2 separate regions of the Homo sapiens genome follow, and region 1 is linked to region 2. A link means that fine-mapping ties the variant in region 2 to the expression of a gene that starts in the linked region. Tissue or cell type: whole blood. Region 2 holds a variant in brackets; the other region holds the start of a gene. All regions are shown on one strand. Distances are between the middles of the regions.

Region 1 (8,178 bases), 60 kb before region 2:
ATATGAGTTCACAAGTGAACTAAGGCCTACTCATTTTCTAACTTCCAGAATTTTCCTCAACAGGAAACACTCACGTAACAAAGAGTGCTCTGCAGGTTTAACCAGAGAAATAACATGTGTAGGCAGGAAGAAAGAAAATCAGACAAAAATTTAACATCTCACGTTGGTAAAGCACCAAAGTCAAATACGAATGTTCTGAACGTGGCTTTCAGAAAAGATGCAAGAAAACTTCTAAAATACTTCACTTCAGTGGACTCATATAGATGGAAAGACCGAAAATCCCACCCTACCATAAAGGCTCTAATAATTCTTAACTGATCATTCTTTTAACTGGTCACAATCACAGACACTGGTATATACTCAAATGAGGTGGCCATCAGTGACAACCATCTTCACCATAATATAGACATTAAGAACCTTTGTAACATTTAATGTTTCCCTCCAAGTAGTTCAAAAAATAAAAAGTCAATCACCTCAAATTATGAGGTACTAACAAATACACCAAATATGCTAAAGGTCGAAGGAACGGCACACTTTGTTGCATAAACCTAGTGGAAATCCAATTCAGAATTTCATGACTGAAGGTAGTTATTCCACATTTATAATACATTTTTTAAATTCCCAAGGGATGAGCATTTTTACCTTGCCTTATTTTTAGAACTACACATCACACTGCACATATCACATGACATGATGTAACTGTTAGCAAAGAAAATGGTCCAAACCATTGACAATGTACATGGTAAATCAGGATCAATGCATACTCAAGAACCACATTTCGTATTTACTTTAAAAAAAAAGTTTCTTAATTCAAAATGTTTTTTCAAATTGAAAAAATGTCTAGTAACCTATGTAGAAAAAACCAGAAATGTACTTCGTATTTTATAAAATAGGAGTTTACCCAATTATGGGAAAAACTGATATAAAGAAACAGATAAAGGAATAACATACTTCTAAAACTACAGGATTAAAAGTAAAAATTTTCTAGATCAACACCGAAATGCTAATAAATACACTTAGCATTAGGCACAAAACAATTACTACTCAAAAGTATTCACTGTTGATAGGTTAAAAAAATAGTTTTAACTGACAACGCCTGTAGACAATTGAAATTTTCTAAATTGGTCAGACAGCATGCTAGAAAAGGAACCAAGTAGAGCCTATAGGAAAGGGGAAAGGGAAAACACACCCACTTAAGCCTTTGTAAATAGTGGTCCTTTAACTGACCCAAAAAGCAGAGAAAACAGAAATTACAGACCATCCTGACAAATGGAAAACATATTCTAACGTACTAGTTTCCATACTTGAAAGGACTTTCAAAATGAAGTTCAGTAGCAATCTATAACTATATCATGATTATGCAAGGCAAAGATTATGTAATTTTATCGTTTATTTTAAAATGTTCTCCGACTCTAAAACTAAAACAAGTAAAACGTTTTGATCTCTCCAAAGCGAAAAGGAAAGGTTCCTCTGAGCTGCAATTTAAAAATATAAACACACACCCCAAAACAAACAAAAAAACACAATGATTGCTAGCCACGTGACAAAGGAGATGGCAACACCAGGATTGTGAATGGAGGGGAGGGAGGCGAGGCTGGAGGAAGAGAGATTTCTCGGAACTTTGGGGACCGCGGCAGTCGGTCTGCCGACCCTAGGAGCACTAAACTCCAGCCCCTACGAGTTGTGCTTCTAACACCCTCAAGTACAGTTTTATTAATAAGTCACAGAAAATGCTCCAGTGACCTCCAGGATAAAGGGGGGTGGGGGGGACCGAGGAAAAGGAAAGAGAGCAATTTAAAGTGGCGCCATCATGTCACCCCTTCTCCCCTAAAGCAATCAGTAAGCAATAGTTAAGTAGCACGTTTCTCTATAAATCCACATTGGGATTCCAACATTGGAAAACGAGGATTTTTAAGTAAGACACGGGAGTAGCGCTGTTTATCGTATGGAAAACAAACTATTTGCTAAGAATCAAAAGACCGTCAGCCGGAAAACAGGCCCCCAAAAAGGCAGTTAAGATTCCAACTCACTTAAAAGCAAATAAATCCCTCTTCCTCTTTAGTTTAAAAAAAAAAAAAGTCCGCCTGAGGGAGACTACATCTGAAAACGTAAGTGACCTGAATTTACAGGCAACAAAAATAATAAATGAAACAATCAGAGTTGTGATACAAACCGTGCAACGCGCCAAGATGTGTGTTTCGAGCAGAGAAAGGCCTTTTGCAGTCAAGAGAAGTTCAAGGCGAGAGCCAGAGTTTGTTTGGGGGGTTCTTTTACGGGAATAAATCATGTTCTTCAGGCCGCCTTTTTAAATAGAACGCCAAAGGAAAAGCTGGCGAACGAGGCGGCAGCTCCTGGGGAAGGGCCCCCGCACACCCCCGCCCTTGGGGCGACTCCCAGCCCGGACCCGCAGCAGGGAAGCCCGGAGAGGCCATTTAAAGTTCCGGGGGATTTTTCTACCCTGCCCTGCCTTTCTAGTTACAACTAACAAAGAGAGAGAGAAATGGGAGCCACAGGGAGAGCGAGGAGAAGGAGAAAGGGCAGCAGGAGGAGGAGGAGAGGAGCAGCAGCAGCACCTACCACGTGATGGAGGAGCGTAGCCCGGGCGGATTCAGCCCCACAAAATGGGCGCAGTTTGCAAACAGCCCCCCGGCCTGGGCGCCGAGGGCCAGCGGCGGGCGGGGGCGCGCGACGGCGGCTCCGGCCCGGGCCCGCCGCTCTCCTCCCCCCGACGCCCGGAGCCGCCCTGACTTTCCGGGCGGGGGGGCGAGGCAGAGGGGGAGGGGAAGGCGGCGGCGGGGAGCGGCTGCTTTTTCTTCTCTTTCGGGCCCTTTCCCGGCCTTGCTCCGCACCGACGGGGCCCGAGCACGGCTGGAGACCGCAGCCCGGCCGGGAGGGCGGGCGGGCGGGGGCAGAGAGTGAAACCGCCCCCCCGCCCCGCACAAACAAGCACCGCCGTCTGCAGCCCGAACCCGCACCCAGGCCGCCACCCCCGGCCGCCTCTTTCCAGCCGGGGAGCGCGCTTCAGCCGCCCCCCGCGCCGCCGCGGCGAGACGAGTCGGCTTCGCTACGGTGCTCGGTTCTCCCGCCGGCTCGGCGAGCGGTGGCGGCGGTGGCGGCGGCACTGGGAAAATGGCGGCCGAGCTCCTTTTCCCTCCCCCCCTTTAATCTGAAGCGGAGGGAGAATGGAGCGAGCGAGCAAGCGGGCGAGCGCCGGGGACACGGGGAGGAGGGACAGCAGCGCCTCCGCCGGCTGCGGCTGCGGCGGCGAAGGGCCGCTCCACCCCGGCGCGCCGCCAGGGGGCGCCCGCCGCGCCGCCCCCGCGGGCCGCCAGGAGGCGCGGCCGCCGCCGCCTCAGTCATGGCTCCTCGCCGTGGCCGATGTTTTTGTACCTCCATCTGCGGAGGCCGCGGCGCCCGGCCCCAGCTGCCCCGGACGTGCGGCGACGGCACGCAGCACTGCGGCAGGGGGAAGCCAGCCCTCGCTGCGGCCGAGGTGAGTCTAACCTGAGGCACTGACGCCGTCACATGCCCTCCGTGCTGGGGCCGGCGGTGCGGCTCGCCAGTTGAGGGGCAGGGCGGGCCGGCGCCGCGGAGCGAGAGGACGTGAGCGAGGAACTGTTTGCACTGTGTAGTAAAGAGGGTAAGGCCGTCGGCACCACACTATTCCAAGGCTAACCCTGCAGAAAGCTCCCTGACCAGTGAAGCGGCTTCCGCCGCCCGCCCTTTGTCCCTAGCAGCCAGCCTCCGTATACTGCAGCACGGCTGGGCACTAGCCCCAGCACCGCGCTCCGCAGCCACCAGAGTTGGGCGGGGTGGGGAGGGTGCACGTAGTCACTGCGCAGGCCCCAGCCAGGGCCCGCGCCGGGCCAGCCCGGGAAGGGACAGCCGGGAGCCAGAGGGGAAGTGATGGCCCCGCCGGCGCCGGGCCCGCTGGGAACTGTAGTTTTCGTGAAGAAACACGCGTCTTGTTTTGGGTGTCATGGCTTGGCAGATCCGCCAAAACAGGCAAATGGCATTACACAATGAGTATTTATGCTTCCTGCCGCCACCAAAAGGAAGTTCACTGCCATGCTAAAAGTTTAACAAAGAACTCCATAAAGAAACACAAGTCTCACAACAAAAAGCCAACTTCCCACCTCGTTACCAGAGTTGGTTTAAAGTGGTGGCACCTTATCATTTCTCATGACCAGTTTATCAGTACAGAACTTTATATTGTCCCCAAAATAGGACCTTTAAAATAATGGAACCTTTCCTAGACTTAAAGAATTCATAAACATAATGTAATACAAAGTGTCACACAAAGTGTAATTCTACCACCCTTTAAAGTTGCCAAAAGATGAGTGGAGTATCTTGAGATTTAAAAGACTAATCTAGGATTCATCAAAACTGGCTTAAATGACTGAAGAAAAAATCGTTCAAATCATTAAATCATCAAATTCGGCAGATAAGAAGGGTATGTATGCTCTACTACCAAAAAGGAAGACGCAAAATGCTTCACACTTTTTTGTGGCTTACCAGAACCAATATCCGGCATTATACGTCACTTCTGCTTATCAAAAAACACCCTCACAGTCGTTACAGAACGGTTTTAGTCTTCCCACAAAGTTACACTAACTCACCTGCCCCTGCAACATCTGCACCTAGGTTTCTGCGAATTTCCATTTGTACTCCTAAAATCACACTCTCAAGCATAGTCATAGTTCTCAAATACCAAAGGCAGGCAGTTTGGAGTCATAGGGTCAAATTACACAAAGAATAAACTAATATTTGTATACACATCCAAAAGAGGTCTTTAGTCTTGGATTTTTAATTTACAACCCTGGGGAAAAACTTTGACTTTTTTATTGTACACACATACACACATAAATAGTAATTCCACAAAATACAGTAGAAGGGTATTGGACCAACAGATGGCGAACTAGAGCCCCAATCTGAGGCTCCTGAAATCTAAATTAGCAGAATGAAAAATACCAAATAAGGCAAAGCCCTTTGCAGCGTATACTTAAATATTAAATTCAGACACACCATAACAAAATAATCTTACTGCTGCTCCAAATTTTTAAGACTGAACTGTCAGATTTAATTAGGCAACCAAATAAGCAAGATTATATGAAATATATTTTTCTAATGGATTAGGAGAAAACTGGAAAATGCTCATTTTTAAAACCATGTATTTGGGGGAACTATAAATTCCAGTTTCCCCTTTCTCTCATTGCTTAGTGCAAGAGTCAAGAGTTCACAGGGTTTATGGCACTTAAATCAGTCAACCTGTTGTATATTCTTATCTAAAATCAGACATCTTTCTTATTAGGCATCCACTTGTACTTTTATTTTTTTGACAGGGTCCTGCTCGGTTGCCCAGGCTAGAGTGCAGTGGTGCAATCAAACTCACTGCAGCCTCCCAGGCTCAGGCGATCCTACCTCAGCCTCTTGAGTAGCTGGCACTACAGGCATATGCCACCATGCCCAGCTGTTATTTTTTTCACTCCTTTTTGTTTTGGTAGATACAGAGTCTCCCTATGTTGCCCAGGCTGGTCTCGAACTCCTGGACTCGAGTGCTGGCATTACAGGCATGAGCCACCACACAAAAATCTTATGAAGAGAAACAAATTTTCTTAAATTTCCCCCCAAAAAATAGTGGATGTCCAAAAGGCTGATTGAAAACACCTACATACAAAATAAAACAAACAAACAAAAAAAGATTTAAAGAAAAAGGCCTGGTGCAGCAGCTCACTCCTGTAATCCCAGCACTTTGGGAGGGTGAGGTGGGAGGATCACTTGAGCTCCGGAGTTAGAGACCAGCCTGGGCAACAGAGTGAGACCCTATCTCTACAAACAAAATTTTAAATTAGCCAAGTGTGGTAGCATGTGCTTACAGTCCCAGCTACTCCAGAAGCTGAGGGGATTGCTTGAGCCTGGGAGGTCAAGGCTGCAGTGAGTCATGATCATGCCATTGTAGTCCAACCTGGGCAACAGAGCGAGACCATCTCAAAATGAAAAGTGATAAAAAAATAAAAACACCAACATATTTCAAATCACTCTTGGAATAGTCATGTTGACTCTCCAATATCCACTCTATTCTGATTAGTTTTAACCCATTCTCTTTGCCAATGATTGGTTAGGAATGGCCATGAGATGTGAGTAGAAGCCCCCTGGACAGCCTCCAAAAGAGAACTGTGAGAAAAGGTTCTTCAATCCTAAAAATGATGGAGGAAAAAACAGTCCCTCTTCCTCAGACAGTGACACCTCAAACTGCTACAGTCACCTTTGCAGCAAGCCTGAAGATGCCACCAACATCAAAGGGAATAGAGAGTTGGTCCTTGGTGATAGCATTAAGCCACTGTATCAACCAATCCTGACAATTTGTATGACTTCTGGATTTCCAGCCACATTACAACAATGTAACAATAAACATTTATTAATTGCTTAAGCCAATTTGAGTTAGGTTCCTTATATAATAAATGAAGTCAAAAAACAATGATTGAGTTCTAATGTTTTTTAGTATTTGTATCTTACTTTATGATTACAGTATTTTATATAACTAATCTTATTATTTCTTCCTCAGAAAAGACATTCCATGGCCAGGCATGGTGGCTCACACCTATAATCCCAGCACTTTGAGAGGCCAATGTGAGAGTATTGCTTGAGCCCAGGAGTTTGAGAACAGCCCAGGGAAAACAGCAAAACTTCATCTCTTCAAAAAATAAATAATAAAAAAATTTAGCCGGGGGTGGTGGCATACACCTGTAGTCCAAGCTACTCAGAGGCTCAGGCAGGAGGATCACTTGAGCCCAGGAGGTCAAGGCTGCAGTGAACCATGATCACGCCACTGCAAACCAGCCTGGGCAACAGAGCAACACCCCGTCTCCAAAAAAAGAAAAAGAAAGGAAGGGAGGAAGGAAAGAAAGAAAAAAGGAAAAGGTGTTCCCTCTTACACACAGCTCTGTATCCATCCATCTTTGTCTGTGTTCTCTCTACCTAGAAAAAGAGGACCATCCCTCATTACCACCATTCCTTGTTAATTCCTCTCTCCAATCCACCTACAACTCATGTTATCCTCTTATATTCCACCACACCACTGTTATCGTCTACTCACTTCACTTGACAATAATGTAGGCTGGGCGTGGTGGCTCATGCCTGTAATCCCAGCACTCTGGAAGGCCAAGGCAGGCAGATCACCTGAGGCCAGGAATTCGAGACCAGCCTGGCCAACATGGTGAAACCCCGCCTCTACTAAAAATACAAAAAGTAGCCAAGCATGGTGGTGCACGCCTGTAGTTCCAGCTACTCGGGAGGCTGAGGCATGAGAATCACTTGAGCCCGGAAGGCAGAGGTTGCAGTGAGCCAAGATCACACCACTGCACTCCAGCCTACGCGACAGAAGGAGACTGTGTCTCAAAAAAAGAACCAATAATGTACAGAGTTGGCACTACATTACCCTTGGTTAAATGCTGTCTGTAATTCCTCTGAGTTTGTTTTCATATACCAGTCTTGCCACCTCAAGCCAGCCTGAAAGCCCTTGCAGGCAGGAACTGTGGTTGTTCTAATTTAAGATCTGTAACTCATCTATAGATAATAAACGTATTCCAAAAAGGCACTCTCTACCTTCCCTGCCACAGACCTTCTAAACAAGCCAGAAATTCCTAAACAGAATAATCTCACAAATTCAGTACCTCGTATGTCCAAACTAATCTCAAAAGGACAATGAATAACTTTTTTTGCACTTAAGAAAAAGCAATTATTATATATTAACTCAGGACAAGTTCTAAAGCCTAGGCCATTTAGTTTCAAAAGCACAGGGGCCCATTTTTTTGGTTACTTACCTAGGACCTAGCCCAGGGCCTGGCACAAAAGAGACACATCATAAGAACTGACTGAATAAATGAAAAAGGTAGAGTGTAGTACTTAAGCACACAGGACCTAGGTAGCCCGATTCTAATCCTGCCTCCCTCACTTATTCTTTGTGTTACTTTGGGCAAAGTACGTATTCTGCTCTGTAAAATGGAGATAGTAATACCACCTACCTCTTAAGTTTAACTATTATTATTAGTGAATGAAGCTATTTTCCACAGTTCTAAACTTTAAAGGTTAAAATCTGAGTGAAGCAAAAATCAGCACCTCTTTCCTAATTCAAACTTCAAACACCTATCTACTTAGGACTTGGACCTACTTTAATTA
Region 2 (8,178 bases):
TGTCCCTCTAGAGAACCCTGACTAATACGCTCAGTGACTCACACCTGTAATCCCAGTACTTTGGGAGGCTCAGGCAGGAGGATGGCTTGAGCCCCAGAGTCTTCTTCTTCTCCTTCTCCTTGTCCTTCTCTTCCCTTCCCCTTTCTCCTCTTCCTCTTCCTTCTCTTCCTCTTCCTCTTCCTCTCCTTCCTCTTCCTCTTCTTCCTCTTGTTTGTTTGAGAAAGGTTCTCCCTCTGTTGCCAAGGCTGGATTGTAGTGGCACAATTGTGACTCACTGCTTCTCAGCCTCCTGAGAGCCCAGGAGTTTGAGGCTGCAGTGAGCTATGATCACACTACCACACTCCTGCCTGGGTGACAGAGCAAGACCCTGTCTCAAAAAACAAACAAAAAACTCTGGTATGATAGAGGTGAATTGTCTGTTTTATCCTGATAATTCTGCTTACCTTAGTCCCGTGGTTCTCAACTGGGCCAATTTTGCTCCCCAAGTGACATTTGGCAATATCTGGGCAGAGGTCAAGGACGCTGCTTAACATCTTTTTTTTTTTTTTTTTGAGACACAGTTTTGCTCTTGTTGCCCAGGCTGGAGTGAAATGGCACGATCTCGCCTCACTGCAACCTCTGTCTCCCGGGTTCAAGCGATTCTCCTGCCTCAGCCTCCCGAGTAGCTGGGATTATGGGCATGCACCATCACGCCTGGCTAATTTTGTATTTTTAGTAGAGATGGGGTTTCTCCATGTTGGTCAGGCTGGTCTCAAACTCCCAACCTTAGGTGATCAGCCCACCTCAGCCTCCCAAAGTGCTGGGATTACAGGTGTGAGCCACCTCACCTGTCCTGCTTAACGTCTTAAAACACACAGGACAATTCCCCCATAAAAAATGATGACCAGCCGAAAATGTCAACAGTATCAAGGTGAAGAAATTGCCATAAAGGCTTGGTAAACAGGGATGGTATGACGACACTATTGATAGGCCACATTAAAATACTTAGGGCCATATCCATTATCCCTGTTTTTATGATTTCTTCTTTGTCCCCATGCAGTTTCAGGGGCAAAATAAGGGAGTAAGTCAGAGGTGGTTCCAAATAGACATCTGGGAATCTTAGGGTGTAATATGGCCCTCATGGAGGCCCTTGCTGAGCTTAGGGCCTGATTCTGGAATCCTAGCATTGCCAAGAGAGGCAGGCTGGCAGGTGAGAAGACAAATAATGGGAGAGCCCACATATGTTGGAATTCATTTGATGGTATCTAAGCTGGGGTGATTGTCCCCACTAGCATTACATGACTATGGATCCAGTTATTTGGAGAAATCCATTTCCTCCACAGGGAATATATACTACATTAGAACCAAAGATGGAATCCTTAGTAAATGGAATCATTTGGCAAAATTCAGTTGTCTGAAATTTTTGCATAAAATTCTCTTTTTTATTTTCATTGAGCCAAATAAATAAAGTATCAGGTATTTACTGGGGTCACCATTCTTTGATTCATTGATTTTTTTTTTCAGACAGGATCTCGCTGTCACCCACGTTGGAGTGCAGTGGCATAATCTCAGTTCACTGCAACCTCCACTTCCTGGGCTTAAGTGATTCTCCCACCTCAGCCTCCCAAGTAGCTGGAAATACAGGCGCGTGCCACCATGCCTCCATTTTCTTTCTTTTTTTTTTTTTTTAATTGATCATTCTTGGGTGTTTCTCGCAGAGGGGGATTTGGCAGGGTCATAGGACAATAGTGGAGGGAAGGTCGGCAGATAAACAAGTGAACAAAGGTCTCTGGTTTTCCTAGGCAGAGGACCCTGCGCCTTCCGCAGTCTTTGTGTCCCTGGGTACTTGAGATTAGGGAGTGGTGATGACTCTTAAGGAGCATGCTGCCTTCAAGCATCTGTTTAACAAAGCACATCTTGCACCGCCCTTAATCCATTTAACCCTGAGTGGACACAGCACATGTTTCAGAGAGCACAGGGTTGGGGGTAAGGTCACAGATCAACAGGATCCCAAGGCAGAAGAATTTTTCTTAGTATAGAACAAAATGAAAAGTCTCCCATGTCTACCCGCCTCTACACAGACACGGCAACCATCCGACTTCTCAGTCCTTTCCCCACCTTTCCCCCCTTTCTACTCCACAAAACCGCCATTGTCATCATGGCCCGTTCTCAATGAGCTGTTGGGTACACCTCCCGGACGGGGCGGCTGGCCGGGCGGGGGGCTGACCCCCCCACCTCCCTCCCGGACGGGGTGGCTGCCGGGCGGAGACGCTCCTCAATTCCCAGACGGGGCGACTGCCGGGCGGAGGGGCTCCTCACTTCTCAGACAGGGCGGTTGCCGGGCGGAGGGGCTCCTCACTTCTCAGACAGGGCGGTTGCCGGGCGGAGGGTCTCCTCACTTCTCAGATGGGGCGGCCGGGCAGAGACGCTCCTCACCTCCCAGATGGGGTCACGGCCGGGCAGAGGCGCTCCTCACATCCCAGACGGGGCGGCGGGGCAGAGGCGCTCCCCACATCTCAGACGATGGGCGGCCGGGCAGAGACGCTCCTCACTTCCTAGATGGGATGGCGGCCGGGCAGAGACGCTCCTCCCTTTCCAGACTGGGCAGCCAGGCAGAGACGCTCCTCACTTCCCAGACGGGGTGGCGGCCGGGCAGAGGCTGCAATCTCGGCACTTTGGGAGGCCAAGGCAGGCGGCTGGGAGGTGGAGGTTGTAGCCAGCCGAGATCACGCCACTGCACTCCAGCCTGGGCACCACTGAGCACTGAGTGAACGAGACTCCGTCTGCAATCCCGGCACCTCGGGAGGCCGAGGCTGGCGGATCACTCGCGGTTAGGAGCTGGAGACCAGCCCGGCCAACGCAGCGAAACCCCGTCTCCACCAAAAAAATACGAAAACCAGTCAGGCGTGGCGGCGCGTGCCTGCAATCGCAGGCACTTGGTAGGCTGAGGCAGGAGAATCAGGCAGGGAGGTTGCAGTGAGCCGAGATGGCGGCAGTACAGTCCAGCATCAGAGGGAGACCGTGGAAAGAGAGGGAGAGGGAGACCGTGGGGAGAGGGAGAGGGAGGGGGAGGGGAGGGGGAGAGGGAGAGGGAGAGGTGCATTTTCTTATAAACCCAATTTCCTCTTTAGTGCAACTCTACCATTTGAAAGGAACCTTTCTATTGTAATTTACAAGCTGTGAATAACCGCTATGTAATTCTTTCCAAGGATTAATAAACTGAGAGAGGATTTGAACCAACAGAGGTAGGGGAAGATTAGAAGGGGGATGCAAGTGGCCACAGATCTTAGAGGCGGCCAGCAGAGGGCGCTGCTCCAAGGTGAAGGTCGCACCCTGAGAGGCCATCCTTTTTTGTAGGACCAGACTGGGGTGTAAGGACAGTGCCTCATCCTCACAACGACAGACCCGTGTTCTGGGTGTGGATTTGCCTCCCTTGCCTGCGGGACTTCTGCTAGCACTGCCGTTCCTAGACTTAGACCATGCTAGAATGAGTCCAGGAACCGAGGAGAGGAGATGGGAGTGGCTCCTCCCACTGTGGCCCCTAATAATTCACATGAAGAATTTTTGCTTTCCTTGCCAGGGACCCGGGACTCAGTGGGTCCAGAGGTCCTAGTGCCAAAGGAAGAAATGTGTAGATCAGGAAATACTATTATGGTTTTATTCAACTGGAAGCCGAGGCTGGCCATTTATT[GTATT/G]TATTTATTTATTTATCTATCTATTTATTTATTTATTTAGAGACAGAATCTCACTCTTGTTTCCCAGGCTCCCAGGCTCAAGAGATCCTCCTACCTTAGCCTCCTGAGTAGCTGGTACTACAGTCGCATGCCACCTTGCCCAGCTAATTTTTTTTTTTTTTGAGACGCAGTCTCATTTTGTTGCCCAGGCTAGAGTGCAGTGGCGCGGTCTTGGCTCACTGCAACCTCCACCTCCTGGGTTGAAGCGATTCTCCTGTCTCAGCCTCCGGAGTAGCTGGGATTACAGGCATGTGCCACCGCGCCTGGCAATTTTTTTTTTTTTAGTAGAGGCGGGGTTTCACCATGTTGGCCAGGCTGGTCTCAACTCCTGACCTTGTGATCCGCCTGCCTCAGCCTCCCAAAGCACTGGGATTGCAGACATAAGCCACCGCGCCTGTTTTTTTTGTTTTGTTTTGTTTTCTGACAGAGTCTCTGTCACCCAGGCTGGAGTGCAGTGGTGTGATCTCAGCTCACTGCAACCTCTGCCTCCTGGGTTCAAGCGATTCTCCTGCCTTAGCCTCCCAAGTAGCTGGGATTATAGGCGCACACCACTATGCCCAGCTAATTTTTGTATTTTTAGTAGAGGTGGGGTTTCACCATGTTGGCCAGGCTGGTCTCAAACTCCCGACTTCAGGTGATCCACCCACCTCGGCCTCCCAAAGTGCTGGGATTATAGGTGTGAGCCATCAAGCCCAGCCCTGCCCAGCTAATTTTTACACTATGGGCAAGTATGCTGCCCAAGAGTGCTCTGGAACTCCTGGGCTCAAGTGATCTTCCTTCCTCGGCCTCTCAATGTGCTTGGATTACAAGCATGAGCCACCTTGCCCAGCCGAAGCTGGCCATTTAAAGTTCCTCATGCTGCTGAATCAATAAGGATGGAAGGCGGCTACTATTATGGGCTAAGTGTTTGCATCCTCCCCAAATTCTTTTTTTTTTTTTTTTTTTGAGATGGAGTTTTGCTCTTGTTGCCCAGGCTAGAGTGCAGTGGCGCGATCTCTGCTCACTGCAACCTCCACCTTTCAGGTTCAAGTGATTCTCCTGCCTCAGCCTACCGAGTTAGCTGGGATTACAGGCATACGCCACCACACCCGGCTAATTTTGTATTTTTAGTAGAGATGGGGTTTCTCCATGTTGGTCAGGCTGGTCTCAAACTCCCGACCTCAGGTAATCTGCTGACTTCAGCCTCCCAAAGTGCTGGGATTACCAGCATGAGCCACCGCGCCCGGCCCCCAAATTGTTTTTTGTTTTTTTTTTTTGAGACGGAGTCTCGCTCTGTCACCCAGGCTGGAGTGCAGTGGCATGATCTTGGCTCACTGCGAGCTCTGCTTCCTGGGTTCACGCCATTCTCCTGCCTCAGCCTCCCGAATAGCTGGGACTACAGGCGCCCGCCACCACGCCTGGCTAATTTTTTGTATTTTTAGTGGACACGGGGTTTCACCGTGTTAGCCAGGATGGTCTCGATCTCCTGACCTCGTGATCTGCCTGCCTCAGCCTCCCAAAGTGCTGGGATTACAGGGGTGAGCCACCACACCCGGCCTCGGCCCCCAAATTCTTATGTTGAAGCCCTCACCTCCATGTGATGGTATTAGAAGGTGGGGCCTTTGGGACGTAATTAGGCTGACAGTGCCCCATGATGGGATGAGTGTCTTAAAAGAAAAGACCAGGTGGTCTGGCTAGTGGCTCACCCCTGAAATCGCAGCACTTTGGGAGGCCAAGGTGGGTGGATCACTTGAGATCAGGCGTTTGAGACCAGCCTGGGCAATATGGTGAAAAGCCATCTCTACTAAAAATACAAAAATTAGCTGGGCGTGGTGGCGCAAGTCTGTAATCCCAGCTACTTGGGAGGCTGAGGTGGGAGAATCGCTTGAACCCAGGAGGTGGAGGTTGCAGTGAGCCCAGATCATGTCATTGCACTCCAGCCTCCAACCTGGACAGAGAGAGCATCTGGAGAGTCTCTGTCTCAAAACAAAAAGAAAAAAAAAAGAAGAGACCAGAGAGCCTTTCTTCTCTTTGTCCACCAAGTGAAGATATGGCAAGAAGGCAGCCATCTGCAAGCTAGGAAAAGAGCCCTTGCCAGCACCCAATTGTGCTATCACCCTGATATGGGACTTCCCAGCCTCCAGAACTGTGAGTAATCAATGTCTATTGTTTAAGCCACCCAGTATGTAATACTGAGCTGACTAAAACCATCACCGAACTAGCCTCTTTACATATGATTAGCAAGAGGAAAATGGCTCTGTTACTTAATGGAGGAAGGAGGCTATGTCTGAAAGCCAAAAATTCACTGGGGACACATCTTAGCAGGCTCTTGACCCTAAGACCTGGTTAATGGAAAAGTAGAGCAACCCAATAAAAACAAGACCACCAAGAAGTCAGGTCTTATGGAATAAAGTATTGAGTGTCCCTATGAGGCACAGAACCCTTCGAAAGGGGATTGGAAGAAGTGGTGAAGAAGGCGGCTATGATTATCAACTTAGACTTCATCGCCATTTGTAGAAGGAGGCTTCTAACAGCTATGTTTTATGTTAATTGGCTCTTTTCTCTTCTTTTTTCTTTCAACCTTATATTAAGAGCACTGGCAGAAGCTAGCGGTTTTGGCATCCTGTAATTATTAGCTGTATAACCTTGGCCAAGTAACTCAACCTTTCTGTGCCTCAGTTACTCATCTGTAAAACAGGGTAATAAGTCTCAACCTCGTACTTATGTTGTTATAAAGATTTAACACTAGGCTGGGCATGGTGGCTCACACCTGTAATCCCAGCACTTTGGGAGGCCGAGGAGGGTGGATCACCTGAGGTCAGGAGTTCAAGACCAGACTGGCCAACATGGCAAAACCCTGTCTCTACTAAAAATACAAAAAATTAGCTGGGTGTGGTGGCACGTGATTGTAATCCCAGTTACTCGGGAGGCTGAGGCAGGAGAATTGCTTGAACTAAACCTGGGAGGCGGAGGTTGCAGTGAGCCAAGATCGTGCCACTGCACTCTAGCCCAGGCAACAGAGTTAGACTCTGTCTCAAAAAAAAAAAAAAAAAAAAAGTAACACTTTGAACAAAAAAGAAAAAAATAATAAAATTTAAAAAAGATTTAACAATTGGGCCAGGCATAGTGGCTCATGCCTGTAATACCAGCACTTTGGGAGCCTGAAGAGGGAGGATTACTTGAACCCAGGAGTTCCAGACCAGCCTGGACAACAAAGCAAGACTTTGTTTCTACTTAAAAAAAAAAAAAAAACACCAAAGTCAGGTGTGGTGGTACACACCTGTGATCCCAGCTACTTGGGAGGCTGAGATGGGAGGATCCCTTGAGCCTTGGAGGTTGAGGCTGCAATGAGCCATGATCATACCACTGCACTCCAGCCTAGGCGACAGAGTGAGGCCCATGTCAAAAAAAAAAAAAATGATCCCCAACATTTAGCAGCTTAAAACAAAAAACATTTATTATATCACACTTTCTGTGGGCCAGGAATCTGGGAGGGACTTAGCTGGGTGGTTCTGCTCAGTTCTCTTGGGATGTTTCAGTCAAGCAGTGGCCTGGGGCTGCACTCTTATCTGAAGACTCAATTGGGAGAAAATATGCATTCAAGGTCACTCATTGGTTGTTGGCAGGCTGTAGTTCCTTACTGAATATTGGTTGAAGACTTCATTGGCTTACTACCTGGACTTCTCCATAGACTGCTTGAATGTCCTCCCCACATAGCTAGAGTGAATGACTAAAAAAGAGAGAGAACACACACAGCCCAGGTAAGAGTTCAGTCTTTCTAAGTCATTATATGAAAGAGATTCTTTTTTTTTTGAGATGGAGTCTCGCTCTGTCGCCAGGCTGGAGTGCAGCGGCACGATCCCAGCTCACTGCAACCTCTGCCTCCTGGGTTCAAGTGATTCTCCTGCCTCAGCCTCCCAAGTAGCTGGGATTACAGGCGTGTGCCACTATGCCCAGCTACTTTCTGTATTTTTAATAGAGATGGGGTTTTACCATGTTGGCCAGGATGGTCTTGATCTCTTGACCTTGTGATCCACCTGCCTTGGCCTCCCAAAGTGCTGGGATTACAGGCGTGAGCCACCACGCCTGGCCGAAAAAGATTCTTGCACACACATGTTTATAGTAGCACTATTCACAATTGTAAAAATGTGGAACCAGTCCAAATGCCCATCAATCAATGAGTGGCTAAAGAAACTGTGGTATAGATATACAGTGGAATACTACTCAGTCATAAAAAGGAATGAATTAATGGCATTTGCAGCAACCTGGACAGGATTGGAGACTATTATTCTTTTTTTTTTTTTTTTTTTTTTTTTGAGATAGAGTCTCACTTGGTCACCCAGGCTGGAGTGCAGTTGTGCAATCTTGGCTCACTGCAAGCTCTGCCTCCTGGGTTCACACCATTCTCCTGCCTCAGCCTCCCAAGTAGCTGAGACTACAGGCGCCTGCCACCACGCCCGGCTAATTTTTTTTTTGTATTTTTAGT

The links. PIP is the estimated chance that this variant, and not a neighbour inherited with it, causes the effect.
Region 1: KANSL1-AS1 starts here. The variant in region 2 is fine-mapped to the expression of KANSL1-AS1 in whole blood (INTERVAL, PIP above 0.99).

The regions. Positions count from the first base shown.
Region 1 is chr17:46,190,246-46,198,423 of GRCh38, forward strand. It overlaps KANSL1-AS1 (KANSL1 antisense RNA 1), which reads left to right and starts at 3,328. Exons shown (of 2, transcript NR_034172.1): 1 at 3,328-3,493; 2 at 6,123-6,478. It overlaps KANSL1 (KAT8 regulatory NSL complex subunit 1), which reads right to left and starts at 3,184. Exons shown (of 15, transcript NM_015443.4): 1 at 2,578-3,184.
Region 2 is chr17:46,250,725-46,258,902 of GRCh38, forward strand. It overlaps a transcript of LRRC37A not described here. Among named protein-coding and RNA genes, the nearest start is that of LRRC37A, 40 kb to the right of the region's middle. The variant GTATT/G (reference allele first, on the strand shown) is at 3,671.